Linked DNA regions of Homo sapiens. The protein of the gene in region 4 purifies or fractionates together with the protein of the main gene of each other region. This does not show direct contact. Each region holds a gene or a part of one and is shown on either strand. Other genes may lie near its edges.

Region 1 (3,500 bases), on a different chromosome or scaffold from region 4:
TTCAAGGACGTTTTTATATGTACTAATAAGAATTTACTTACTTTAATTGATAGAATTGAAAAAGGGAGAACAAAATGATAATGTAAGACTGAAGACTCAAAGGAGTTATTATTTAAATGTAATTTTAATAGAGTTTAAAAGTTTGGTAATCTAGTTAAAAGACCCAATCACCAGTGGTTATTTTTGTGCTATAAATTGCATGTCTTTGAAAATGTCAAAAAAGCTTCTTGTTACTGATTTTTAGGATAGTTGAAGTTGGAAGGAAGAAACATAGTGGTATTTCTGCAGGGATGAAAGATAAGTTCATTTCTACCTAAATATAAATACAATTGTCTGATTAATCATAAGACCACTGAAAACCTTATTCTAGGAATTAATATTTTTTATCTTAAGAATTTCATGTCATTACCAATTGTGATAGGAATTCTAGGCAGTATTTCTCAAACTTTAGGCCAGAGTTATTTCAGAAAATCCAAAAATCTCCATGTGCACTAAGCATTATTTGTGGGTGCTGTTGTGATTTAGTAAAATATGAAATCATTGGACCAGCTTCATGGTAACTTTTTGTTACACAGTTTTATAACCAATAGCTATTTGAACAGATCATCGAACGTTTTAGACCATACTCACCAATAGAAATGTAATATGAGCTACATATAAATTTAAATGTTCTTGATACCACATTATAAAAAGGAAGAAATACGTAAGATTGATTTTAATAATATATTTTATTTAACCCAGTATATTCAAAATATTCAACATGTAATCGGTATAAAATTATTAAAGTGATATTTTATATTTTTTACACTAAATTTTTGAAAATTGGCATGTTTTACATGTACGACACATCTTACTTCTGATGCTAAATAATTACACTGAAATTAAATAGTAGTAAAAATTAGGTTCCTCAAGTTGCCCTGGCTACATTTACGTGCTTCATAACCTTATGTGGTTAGGGGCTGCCATTTTCTACAGCTTAGTTTTAGAACTTAAAGAGGAGTTCCCATATACAGTAGATTGGGAGCCACTGTTCTAGATCAAGTCATCATTTTTACTTATTGGTTTGCTCAAGTTTTCACTTATTAGTAGCAAAACATAGAAGATTTCCAACACATTACTTTAAATATTAAATTATTTAATTGCAATAGAAAATGAAACTGGCATAAACAAATTTGAGAACAAACATAGTTGACTCTTAATAAGCATAAAAAGCATAAGGCTCAGTTTGTGGGAGCAAAAGTGTGAGGGTGTGCAAGAATGAAGCCTCTTGATCTGGACCATTTGGTCTTCCATGGGCGTTAGATATAGGAATACATGGCTTTGGTTAATACTATGAGGCAATTCAGTGGAGGTCAGTTAAGAGAGATGATATCATACTTAGTATATTATAATTAGCTGATTTTTTTCCTACCTTATGCTGGACTAATTTTCTAGAGCAGTTTATATGATACTTACTTCTGTATCCCTACAGACACTGAGGGATACTGTATCTCTAAGCACTTAGCATAGAACCTGACAAATAGATGTTTAGTGAAGATTGAATAAATATCTTGCAGTATTTGCTTGTTGTTGTTATTTAAAATAGTGTAATAGGAATGAGTAATTGTGGGTATTTATATATAATACTAATATTTTAATTGTGTAATAGTTTATGCCTATGTGAGGTTTTAAAAAGTGTATTTTGTTGTGGTAAATAACCTAAGAATTGTTGTTCATAAGGGGTTGCAATTACTTGTCCTAAGACTTGACCCTGCAATAGATTGAGTGAGCACCAGATTATGGGCCAGTTTTAACTAATGAGTCTCAAATTGAGGAGCACTGCGGTATCATTAAGCCTGTAGCTTTTAACTGGTTTCCAGACTTCAGAATGCTGTTTGATAGTATTTTATTAGAATGCTCTGGCATTCATGGTGTACTTTGCTGTTTTAAGACTTCTGACTGGTGTTCCTAACACATTACCCTGTTTAGGCAAGCAGTTTGGGCATAGATTTATTGTCGTTGCTTTTGTAGCATAATATGGCTTCATTTGCGGTTTTAAGGATAGTTGCTACCTTCCATCTATTATGGCAATGTTTCTTGTGCTGCTAATAAGAGAGATTCTGGTGTCATCTACCTTGCTTGCTACCTTTCCGGTGACGTCAAAAGGAGGCATGTGATAGATACGTGCCTTCCTTAACTCTCACTCTTTTTAATGTGATTGGTACAGGATAAAAATGAATTTTAATAACCTTTTTAAAAATTTATCAAGGTTTCATGCTTTAACATGTTGCTACATACTTTCTGATATTGTCCACATTTCTGGTATTTATTCTCTCTCCTGATTTTTTTCTTTCACCACTTGTAAACCCATAAGTTTTTCTGTACTATGGATATTTCATTGACTATGTTATTCCTATAAGGTATATTGAAGATATCACTTGGCTTGTAAAATCATTCCATTGATGGCATGTAAATGATATTCAGGGTTTACCTGCCTGTTAGTTGGCCAGTTTTGTCCTAGAATGTATCTAATCTCTTGTTACATGGAAGTGATGCTTACTATTATGTGGCTTTACCCAAGCCAGTATTTATAGAAATGAGTGAAAATGAAATGTATAAAAGCAGGTTAAGCTTTATTAACTTTGGTACACTATGCCAAGCATATTTCCAGAGAGGCTGTAACAATTGACAGCCTCACCAGCAGTATTCAAGATTCCCATTTGTCTCACATCCTCCTGAACACTTTCCATTGTCTTTTTAATTTTAGCCAAACCAGTAGATGTGTAATGGTATCCTATTGTGATTTTTATTAATATTTCTTTAATACTAATGATGTTGCACACTGTTTTATGTGCTTATTGAGCATTTAAATATCCTCAAAAGAAATGCCCACTCAGATTATTTGCCCATTCTTTTATTTGGTCATCTTTTTCTATTGATTTGTTGGAGTTCTGTAGTTTTTTGGATACAGTTTATTATTGTTGTTGGATATATGAATACAAATACCTTCTCTTTGTGGTTTGCATTTTCACATTCTTAATGACATCTTGTGGACATAAGTTCTAACATGTTTCTTTAAAATTTACAGTGAAATACAGAAATTGTATGTGCATAGTTAATTTTGATAAATTATAGTACAGAGAATTTTGGTAAAATTATGCACCTATTTACCTCAATTAAGTTGGAGAATATTCTCATCACCCCAGAAAGTTTCCTTGTGCTTCTTTCAAGTCAACTCCCATCTCATGTATTATTGTTTGCATATCTATTACTGTAGCATAGTTTGGCTTGTTCTTGAATTTCAGTTAAATTGAGTCACTTAATGAGTGACTTAATGGAATCTTGTGTCTGGCTTCTTTTATTCAAATTGGTATTTTTGGGATTCATCTATATGTGTGTATCAATAGTTCAATTTTTAAAATTCTAAGTAGGTATTATATAAATATAACACAGTTTGTTTATTTATCTACTGTTGTTGCACGTTTGGATCATTTCCAGTTTTGAGATCTAATGAATAATGC
Region 2 (3,500 bases), on a different chromosome or scaffold from region 4:
TGATTTAAAATCAATCGACATGGACTGTGACTCTGGGAAACGACCGCAGAAAAGAAACTACAGCTAACTTTTAAAAACTACAACTCATTAAAAATATGTATCATTTTTAAAAGTAAAGGCAATCCTTATAGCACAGACTTAGTCTTCCTTACCAGCGTTATGGATAACACAATACTTTCATTGGATTTTAAACCTTTCAACCACCTGCTTCAGATAAGACATGTCTTCCTTCCTCCATCCCTCCCTCTCTCCTCCCCACTTTTCCTTTCCTTTTTTTTCTTTCCTTCTTTTTCTTCTCCTTGTGCAAGGCCCAAGGTATGGCAATCAAATGCCAAACAACTAGGACAAACATCCTGAGTGGTCTAAAGTACTCATTAAAAAACATTTATTTAAAAAATGACTACAAATAATCTATCTTATTATCAGATTGATTACCTCTTATTGGTATGCAGAAATATAATTGGGGCAACAAAGACTTTCTAAAAATTGCAAACTGCCTACGAAGTGTGGCTCCCTAGTTATGGCCTCGTTCCCTTGAATATATAATGGGCACTGTGCCCTCTGTGCCTTCCCATTATCCTCGCTTCCCCCCTTTTTTTTTAGCGATTTAATACTCCCCGTCGTGGAGAAACAATAGTGCCAGGTCCATAAGCTTCTCGTGCTGAGCTGGGCACAGTCTAGAAATTTAAACCTGATTTGAAATAGCCTGTCTTCTGCGATTGAATTAGGGGCCAAGTTAATTCAGTCCTGTATCTTGGAGACACTCTCCAGCTCCCAGAGAAGTTCTGGGGCAAACATTTACCCCAGAGGAGGCAGAGGAAACTCAGATTCTGCTGGGTGATGGTGGAGGGGCCAGTGTCGATGCAGTGCTTTCTCTTTTTTATCGAATTAGTTCCCATTTCAGAGCAACATCTGGCCACCTGGCAGCCAGTGCCATACATTGCAGGCCAACAACATCAGGGTCTATTAGATAAATTTCATGGAGTTTTTCTCCAACTTTTCCATTTGGGTCACATCCTAACCAGCCGTTGGAAAGAGGCAGGAACAAGCACAATTGCATGGATGTGGCAGAGGACTCCTTTCTTCCTCAGTCGCTATGAAACGCAGGGAGAATTCGTTTATTAATAGTTCAGATAATTGAAGAGTATTTCCCTATACGAGATCACACTTATTTAAAAAATTGGGGGGGGTCATATTTATTTTAGCTCTTTGTGTAAAAAACACAAGAACAAACTCAGAGCTTTATTTAATTTGAATATAACACTAGAATAGCTTCTTAGGTCATTCAGTTTTATTTTGGACTAAATCATCATCCATTAAGATATTTTTCACGTTTAAGCCTGCTTTATGAAACCTTTCTTTCGGTAACCGCTACCTAGATATATTTCAAAAACAGTTATAACAGGAATATCAGGATGCTCGTCTCTTTTCCTAATTATTCGGGTGCCTTTCTGATATTAATATTCTTAGAACTTTCAACAACAGAAGAACAGGTAAGAGTGAAGGAGTGCACTGTGTTTTTCCCATGGTTGTCAGTTTGTGTGTGTGCAACTCCATGTGTATGTTTGTGTGTAGACTCCTATTGTGGTTTTTCGAAAAATAGATCTCTGTTGTAAAAACACAATTTTCTGTTGCTCCCCTGGCTCATGGGGACCTGAGTGACCAGGCACACCAATCAACAGATACCCGCCTGTGCCCCAGACCGGACTGCAAGGGACCCGCTGATCCTAGTGCCAGCCTATGCCCGTAGGTGTCGCCAGGTACACGGACACTTACTGGGAGGTGGGAGAGAGAGGAGGGGCTTGGAGTGGCAGAAGAGCAAAAAACTAGTTATGAGTAAAAAACAAAACAAAAACCAAAGACAATATCACCAACATTTTTTTTCAGAAATGAATTAAATTTTGGATATTCTAGGAGATTTTTCTTCTGTCCATCAACCAAAATTCTTATGGCGGTTCACTCAAAAACACTTTTTGAGCAGCCTCATCCCTCCCTACAGGTCAGCCAAGACTACAACAAAATGATTAAGAGGATGGAGAGAAAAAAAAAAAAGCAACTAATATAAAGAGGAAATAAAATGAGTGATTTGTTGACTTGCAGGGCCAAGGAAAACCATGACAATGTGTCTGGCAAGTTCTTCCCCTGTGTGACTTGCTCATATTTCAAATAGTGGAGTAAGTATGGGAGATATCTGATGAGATTAGGGGTGTTTTCGGGTCAAATTTCTATTTTTCTGGAATGCTTGCTAATTTAGACACTGCTTTCTAAGACAGGAATCATACCAGTGAAGCCCATGGCGGCTCCTTCTCGTGACTGTCTAAGCAGCCCAGCTCCATCTCGAAAGTCAATGTACACCAGATCTATGGCTTGGAGACCAAAGGCTTTCGCTATGACAACAATCTTTTGCCGGGCGTAGAGAATATCCAGGGTTTCTTTACTACTTGTTGCACCTGAAAATGGGATGTTAACAGAAAAAGGAGGCTTTAACTTTGGAAACCGCACCCAGATATTTATTATAAAACCTCAGTTTGTACAGATATCTAAACCTCCCTGGAAATTGCTCCTCCGCAAAATAAAATTATTGAAATACAAATGAAGACAGGGACGCGTGGAGGCCAAGTTAAACCTCGAATGTGTCTGTTTAACTGACAAGGCATCTTTCAATAGAATTACTTCTACCTGCATTAAGAGAAGGCCCCTTCCCCATTCTGGGAGGCTGGGTCAGGGTCGCAAGGGACTCCTGATATATTTTTTTCCTTCTTATCATCGCTTGAAAAGTGCCAGTCCAAAGACAGCACCACAAAGGGTGGCCCAGCAGCTATGCAGGGCAATGGTTCGTGTTTCACAGCAAGCACAGAACTGTGTGTGCTGCGATTGCCCTGTCCAAACTGAAGTTCTGAGCCAAATGCTTCAGCTTCAGGGTCTGTCTGGATGGAGAACTTGGGGAGACGGGAGGGCACTTGTTTTGAGAGGGCTGGAAAGCATCGATATGCCTTCTGTAGCCCGCTGAACCGTTGGATACACAAGTCTCCTGGAAAGACTCGTATTCAAATAAATTCAGTTTTTTCACCCTGAGGGGAGGGAAGTGTCCCTGTTTACATTTGGAACATGCCACTCCCTGCCTAGGGAAAGTGCCTGTCTTCAGGTCACTGGGGCTGGTTTCTGTGGCCTCGGCCTCTTTTCTAAATGCTTCACGGTCTCCAGTCAAACATGCAGACCCCTCAAGTGCAGCTCACAAGGGATGGTGAGAATCGGTGAAAATCAGCACATTTAATACTAAGAGTTCGAAACATATTGTAAGAGAAATTTAAGATCCATTTAAAATAATATTTACCTACCGCATATTCTGTAGAAAACAATTCATTAAGGCAAATGTGAAATTGCCTTAAATTTGCGTTAGAAATCTAGACAGCCCACAGACTGATATGAAAACAAAATACTGAAGCAACGGTGAGGCTGTTCACATAATATATTTATTAGGAGCAAAGGAGATGCCATAT
Region 3 (3,500 bases), on a different chromosome or scaffold from region 4:
CCCTCCCCGCTGGCCCCTGCCCCCAATGCAGGCTCTGCCTGTCACTTGCTGGACGAGTTCCCCAGCGTTCCTCAGCGTCTCAAACATCAAAGGCTTCATTTGAAAATGGGATAAAAACATCTCCAGGGCGGGGCGGCTGCTAACAGCAGAGGCCTCCATGGGAGACGCTGGTACAGCCAATTCCAGGCGCCACGTACTTCAAGCACCCAGAGAACTGCGGCCAGTTATTTTTTCTGATTTTATATTATTTCTTAAATAGGGCGTCTCGCTTGTTGCCCAGGCTGGTCTTGAACTCCTGGGCAAAGTGATCGTCCTGCCTTGGCCTACCAAATGCTGGGATCCCAGGCGTGAGCCCCTGCGCCCAGCTGACTGAGGCCTGCTCTAACTTCATGTGACGGAGCGAGTTTCCTGGCTTGGAAATAACTGAAAAGATTCATTTTCTCTTTGTGTACAAAGGATTCAAAATATTTTCACATCTTCCTTCTGCCAGTTAAACGTGCCGTGGCTCCAATACACACCAAAGCCAAGCGTACTTGGCTGCCTCAGGAAGGCTGGGAGGAAGTGCCAGATGGTATCAGCGACAGCGGTGGGGACCGGGCGGGGACGGGCCAGCTCTGTCCTCCCAACACGGCACCAGGCACTCGGCCTCATGGGGGAGGCCCGGCCAGCGGGAGGCAGCCACAAGTCCAGGCCACGTGGGAGGTGAGCGTGGGGGGAGCAGTGCCTGCCCCACCTCCACCACTGCTCAGAAGCCGCAGCAGTCATGACCAAGAGGACCGGGTGCCCTGGTGCCCACACCCTGGGCCTCGAACCTGCGGCGTGCACGTGGGTGCCAGGAAAGGGACAGCGGGGGACAGACTGTGGCCCTGGGCAGCGATGCCCCACAAAGGAGTCCCATCCAGGCTGGAGGACGTGGCTCCTGGCCACAGGGGCTCCGGCCTCTCCTCCCGGATTCCAGTCAGGGTTCCCATGACACCCGGACAAACCCCAGGTGAAACGCCCTCGCAGCCCTGTCAGAGCAGCCCGGGGCCAGGGCTCTTCATCACGCGGTGCTGAAGCAGCTCCAGGCTGGGGCGGCCTCCAGGGAGGGCAGGGAGTCAGGGCCCCAGGAGCCCTGGTGCACCCGAGGACTCCGCTGCCCGCCGGGGCCCGGGGGAAGCAGCACTTACTGGTCCTCGTTGCGGAAGACGCCCCACACCACGCTGACGGCCACGCAGAAGAGCGCCAGGAGCAGCATACGGGCCTGCGGGCGCTTGTGGAAGTAGGGCAGGCTGTTGTTGGGGATCCTGGGGGGCACGGGGCAGTCAGAGCCAAGCCCACCAGCTCCCGGCCTCATCCCACTGCCCACCACCCTTGGGACCGGCCCAGGCACCCCCTGCAGAGTGGCAGCCCCCACTCTGTTGTCCTCATTAAACTCCACATCCCACACGATGACAACAGTAGGCACCCCAAGGGCAGGGCAGAGCCCGACCCGGGCAGGCGCTGGGGGCCACGGGCTGTACCCACAGAGCCCCTCGCCTGCGCTGCGCCCCTTCGCCCGAGGCCCTGCCTGCTCCAGACCTCCCACCTCCTCACCCAGGGACGGCAACACAAAAAGGTCTCCCCCTGGGCTAGCCCCGCTTCCTAGACCCAGGTCTGACTTTGTTGGAGACCCCCCAGCAGCTCCCTTTACCCCTAAGAGCCAGGCCAAGCTCTGGGCTGTGGGGAACCTTCTGGGTTCCCCGGAGAACCCTGGGGAACCCAGGGTTCGGCCTGCGACCTGGGGCAGGGTTCCTGGGGACAAGGGCACCCTCCCCCCGCCACCCCTGGCGCCTGGCTGCTGGTGGGCTCCATTGATAGCTCGCCCAGACTCCGCCCTGCTCCTGGGCCTAGGAGCCCCAGGCCAGCACTGAGGGAGCGCCTGCTGTAGACTCTGAGCAATATTGCACCATGGGGGGCTATGGGGCGGCAAAGGGGCCGTGGCCATCACCGCACAGAGTCAGGCACGTCGGGGCCAGCAGGGCAGACTCACCTGCACTTGCCGAAGGGCAGCCGCCGCACACAGGGCGCCAGGCAGCTGTAGAGGCCGGTGGCGGAGGCCAGGCAGAAGATCCCGATGACCACGTACACTGCAGGGGCAGGGCCGTGAGGCCGGGGGCCAGGCCCGCACGCCACCCTCCCTCCGCACGGGGCGGGCTGCATCTCCACGCCGCGGCCCACCCGCCCGGGGCCGCGCACCGAGGAGATCGTAGAAATAGTAGAGCAGCACCAGCATGGAGCAGCACATCACCACAAACACGCAGGTCATCACCGGCGTCACGTCCACCGCCTCGTCCTCCTGCTTCTCGGGCCCATCGTCGCGCTTGTGCTTCATGTACCTTCTTGGGAGACACCATGGGGTCGTGGGGCCCTGGGGCCGGCTGGCCGACACGGGGCTCGGGAGCCCACAGCCACCCGGGGGAACGGGGCAGAAAACCCGGGAGCAGGAGGGGACCCGGGGGGGACTGAAGTGCAAGGAACCGCCCCGAACGTCCCCAGGGCAGAGGAGACCACACAGCAGAGGGTGGCAGGGCCCGCGTCCCTGGGTTGAGCTGGGGTGGCCACTAGGCCGGGCCAGAGGCTGGCGTGTGGGCAGCAACCGCAGCTTGGATCTGCATAAAGAGCCCTGGACATGGGGCCTCCCCAGACCCAGGCGGCTCAGCAGGAAGAGGGTAGCTGGCCCCAGCCACCTGCCCAGCCCTGCACCTGCCACGCCCGTACCTGCCACATCCACACCTGCCCAGCCCTACACACCCACCAGGTGCCCGGAGCCCACCCTGGCAGGAAAAGAGACTGATTCTGTCCCAGGACCTCCTGAGGAAGAAACGAAGGGCTCCACGGGGCGAGCCGTGCCTGCCGAGGCCAAAGCACTCACTGCTGTTCTGGAAGACTGGCCGTCCCGGCCCGTGTCAGAGCCGCCCGACCCCGTCACAGCACACGCACGATGCGAAACTCACTTCTTCACGTCCCGACTCCCGGCCCAGTAGCCGCCGATGGCGACGGTGCCCACAGCCATGATGAAGATGATGACCATGTTGTAGTCCAGCACCGGCTCCTTAGGCGCATACAGCGCCGCCCTCACCGTGCGGCCGAAACGCTGCCTCAAGGAACACACCGGAGGCAGGCGTCAGAGCCACCCGCCAGCCATGGGTCGACGTGCAGCTGTGGGCTGTGGGGCTGGGGCTGGAGACCCTGGCCTGCAGGGGCCACGCCTCACCCACCACCCTGATCCCACCAACTGAGGCACAAACCCCCCCGGCAGCCAGCCCGAAGCCCCCTGCCCCATCTCCTCGGGAGCGTGGGTCTGAGCCGGCGCAGACCTACCGTGAAGATGTCCAGCATGTCTTTGTAGCTGAGCAGGGCCACGGGAATGCCAATCTCATCATACTGCGTCTTATTACCCCCCGGGGGGACCTGGGGGCCCAGAGGAGGGAGCGGCAGGCATCACCCGCAGCAGTGGGTGGGCCCCCAGCTCTGTGCCC
Region 4 (3,500 bases):
GTGGCTTTGCTTACTGGGCTTTAGATAGTACTCTTATCCACACTGCTGCCCTACCTCTGAAATATAAGTCTTTACAAGTGACTTCCTTTTTTTTTTTTGGCCGGAGTCTCGCTTTGTTGCCAGGCTGGAGTGCAATGGCACGATCTTGGCTCACTGAAACCTCTGCCTCCCAGGTTCAAGTGATTCTCCTGCCTCAGCCTCCTGAGTAGCTGGGACTACAGGTGCACACCACCATGCTCGGCTAATTTTTGTATTATGATTATTATTTTTAAATGGAGTCTCTCTCTGTTGCCCAGCCTAGAGTGCATGGCGTGATCTAGGTTCACTGCAACCTCCGCCTCCCAGGTCCAAGTGATTCTCACCTTCAGCCTCCCAAGCAGCTGGGATTATAGGCCCCCGCCACTATGCCTGGCTAATTTTTGTATTTTTAATATAGACGGGGTTTCACCATGCTAGCCAGGCTGGTTTCGAACTCCTGACCTCTGGTGATCCGCCCGCCTCGGCCTCCCAAAGTGCTGGGATTACAGGCTTGAGGCACCACACCCGGCCAATTTTTGTATTTTTAGTAGAGACAGGATTTCACCATGTTGGCCAGGAAGGTCTCGATCTCTTGACCTTGTGATCCGCCTGCCTCGGCCTCCCAAAGTGCTGGGATTACAGGCGTGGGCCACTGCGCCCAGCTGTGATTTCCACATTTTAAGAACCATCTTCTGTCTTTTCAGAAGATTAATTTGAATTGGTTTCATTTCAATGAGAAGGTTGCCTACTGGAGAGAATAGCCATCATGAATGCAGAAGGCCCTTTCTTTTCTAGGGTGACCTTCCAGATTTGCTAGGTTTGGGGTTCCCAATAGCACTTTTAGGCTTTTCAGGATGAGATTCTGCCTCTTCAAAGGGACTGATGTTTGCTTGGCTTAGAATGGCTTGAAAAGTTGTAAAGTTTGTGAACCAGAAAGACCCCCCAAACCTGGAGATTTACCCAATAGAGACCTGGGGAAGGAAACAGCTCAGTCCAGAGGGAGCTAAAAGTAAGTGGCTCTGGGCTCTGGAAGGGACAAAATGGTCCCATGGTTTCCTCCCTCAGCTGTGCTCTCCCCAGTGTGTGTGTGTGTGTATGTGTGTGTGTGTGTGATTGAGAGGAGGAGTGAAACATTTGCTTCCTAGCAGGGCTGAAGGAGCCCAGGTTGTAATCAGGAGAGTGGAGGACAGATTCCAGAGGAGAAAGCCTCTTTCCAGAGGCCAGGGGCAGAAGGCCAGGCCAGCTCTTACGCAATTGAGGAATTAAAGACTTTTTGGGCTGGAAGGAGCCTGGAAAGCTCTCTTGAGTCTGACTTCCTATCTGCTGCTGGCATCTTCTTGATTGGAGTGGCAGGAATTCTAGGACACATTCAGCTCTGAAGGGACTGGCTCTGATCCTAGCAGAAGAAGAACAACCCCAAGCTCTCCAGCAAGGATCCCTTTAGGAAGCAGCACAAGCAGGCCCCGGCTCCATCACCAGACTCTTGGCTGTGACAAGCCCTTTGTACCCTGCCAAGCTCCCACTGTGGGAAATGCAGTCCTGAGCTCTGTCCAGAACCTAGAAGGAGGTGCTGCTGGGATGTGCCACCTCCAGGAGGAAGCTGGGGGCAGGTGGAAGGGAGGAGGTGAGGACCAGCTCTCAAATCTCAGGAGGGGTGTGCAGCTGCGGGGCAACAGGTTCTTGGGGGAGAACGTAGGTGGGGAGCAGGGATTTGGGAATGGGAAGATTCCTGAGGGCACAGCATCCAGAGCGAGGAAGGTTCTTACGAGAATTAGGACAGCAGAGAAATGGGGAGTGCTCAGAAGGTGCGGGGTCAGGAGCCACTTTGCTGTGGTCAAGGGAGCACAGAGCGGGAAAACACAGGTTTGGAGCAGGGTTTGGGGTAGGGGCTGGGAAGGGGTCAGGGTGGGGGTGACAGGTGCTACTGAGTGTGGAAGGGACCAGGAGGGTGGGAAGAGATAGTGACAGTGAGATTGTCTCAGGCCAAGCATGGTTGGTGGGGTGAGGAAGGTGTGCGTGGTGGCAGCTCACACATCTGCCAAGGCATATGACAGACAGAGCCAGCTGCAGACAGAGTGGGGAGGAAAGGCAGATGGTGGGAGGAGGGGAGGGAAATGAATGAAAGCCAGAAGTCAGGGGCTCCTCCATCCTCAATCACCTCAGATCTAGATGTAGTTAGCTCAGGAGCCCAGATAGTCATAGGACCCACAGATGCCAGGGGCTCTTTCACAATTTCTGCTCATTCTAACGGCTTAAGCTTCCGTGGCCCCTGCGCGTATTCATCCTCTTATTGTGAACTCAGGTTACTCTGAGGGGGTGCAAAGCTCAGCCTCATCACTGTTTCTCTTTCTCTCCCTCTCTCTCACACCCACACACACGTGCACATGCACATACACTCAAGTTCAAACAAAGCCTCTTGTCAGTTTTTCAGCACTTGCTTAAGATATTGGGGGGCTCTGCTGAGCATCACATCCCATAATGCCTGAACTTCTGCCTACCTACAGCCTTTCTTGTCCCTTCTCTTTGCTTCCGTATCAACTTCTCACACTTTGCCTCCCAGATTCTAAACCCCACTTTCCTCCCAGGACCCAAATCACCTCACTTGGTTACAGAGAGCAGCTTCCCTCTTTCCTCTGAATGCATGGTGACCTCTGACTCCCAAGACCTGGGGACTATTGTCGGGGGGGTCATCTTGTGTCCCAAATTCAGGTAAAGAAGCTTATCAGGGCTTCCTTTGGGGACAACCCCTCTTCCCAGTGCCATGTTGATTCTTTCTGGAGAGTGGTTAAGATCAGAGCCGGAGAGTATTTTTCCTCCCACAAGAACACTCTGAAAGTGGAGGAAACCGCAAGTTGTGCTTTTAAAGAATAAGCCTGAGATTCAGAAGACCCCAGAATATATGGGTCTCACTCCAAAGGGAAGTGATCTTGTATATGACCAAATCTCATGCCTGGCAGAGGCTGCAGGGCCCAGGACGAGGTGGGATGACCAGCTCCTCTCTGCTCCTGCCTCCAGCTTTGGTCTCCAGGTGCTGGGGCCCCTGTGCTGTGACTTGGTGTCCCTGCTCTCACAGGGGACAGGTTTCTGCTCTCACAGGGACTCTTTGGCTTAGGTCCTAAGCTCAAGTATTCCTCCAGGTTCCCCTCCCAGGAAACACCCAGGTCTCCCTGGCAATCTTCCCCTTAAGCTTCAGACAGACGGCTGCTGATGGGGCCATCTGGATGGAGACTTGGGACTCGGGCTTGTGTTTTCCAGGCTGTTTGTCTCTGAAGGGCCCCGGCTCTGTGACTGGCACTGCGGGGGACTCTCTGACAGTGTGGTGTCAGTATGAGAGCATGTACAAGGGATATAACAAGTACTGGTGCCGAGGACAGTACGACACGTCATGTGAGAGCATTGTGGAGACCAAGGGAGAAGAGAAGGTGGAGAGGAATGGCCGCGTGTCCATCAGAGACCACCCGGAGGCTCTCGCCTTCACTGTG

The links.
Region 1: the proteins of CD300E (region 4) and LYPLAL1 purify together in Homo sapiens (affinity purification with mass spectrometry; one large-scale study listed by BioGRID and IntAct). This does not show direct contact.
Region 2: the proteins of CD300E (region 4) and CLYBL purify together in Homo sapiens (affinity purification with mass spectrometry; one large-scale study listed by BioGRID and IntAct). This does not show direct contact.
Region 3: the proteins of CD300E (region 4) and SPPL2B purify together in Homo sapiens (affinity purification with mass spectrometry; 2 studies listed by BioGRID and IntAct, with this or other methods). This does not show direct contact.

What each region holds. Positions count from the first base shown.
Region 1 is NC_000001.11:219,180,378-219,183,877, forward strand, and holds part of LYPLAL1 (lysophospholipase-like protein 1), read left to right. Parts: intron 1-3,500.
Region 2 is NC_000013.11:99,865,190-99,868,689, reverse strand, and holds part of CLYBL (citramalyl-CoA lyase, mitochondrial isoform 1 precursor), read right to left. Parts: intron 2,451-3,500; coding exon 2,283-2,450; intron 1-2,282. UniProt on the Homo sapiens protein: Mitochondrial citramalyl-CoA lyase indirectly involved in the vitamin B12 metabolism. Converts citramalyl-CoA into acetyl-CoA and pyruvate in the C5-dicarboxylate catabolism pathway.
Region 3 is NC_000019.10:2,338,684-2,342,183, reverse strand, and holds part of SPPL2B (signal peptide peptidase-like 2B isoform 2 precursor), read right to left. Parts: exon of another isoform or gene 3,433-3,500; coding exon 3,343-3,432; intron 3,120-3,342; coding exon of another isoform or gene 3,116-3,119; coding exon 2,976-3,115; exon of another isoform or gene 2,894-2,975; intron 2,361-2,893; coding exon 2,218-2,360; intron 2,109-2,217; coding exon 2,012-2,108; intron 1,287-2,011; coding exon 1,170-1,286; intron 1-1,169. UniProt on the Homo sapiens protein: Intramembrane-cleaving aspartic protease (I-CLiP) that cleaves type II membrane signal peptides in the hydrophobic plane of the membrane. Functions in ITM2B and TNF processing.
Region 4 is NC_000017.11:74,617,239-74,620,738, reverse strand, and holds part of CD300E (CMRF35-like molecule 2 precursor), read left to right. Parts: intron 1-3,273; coding exon 3,274-3,500. UniProt on the Homo sapiens protein: Probably acts as an activating receptor.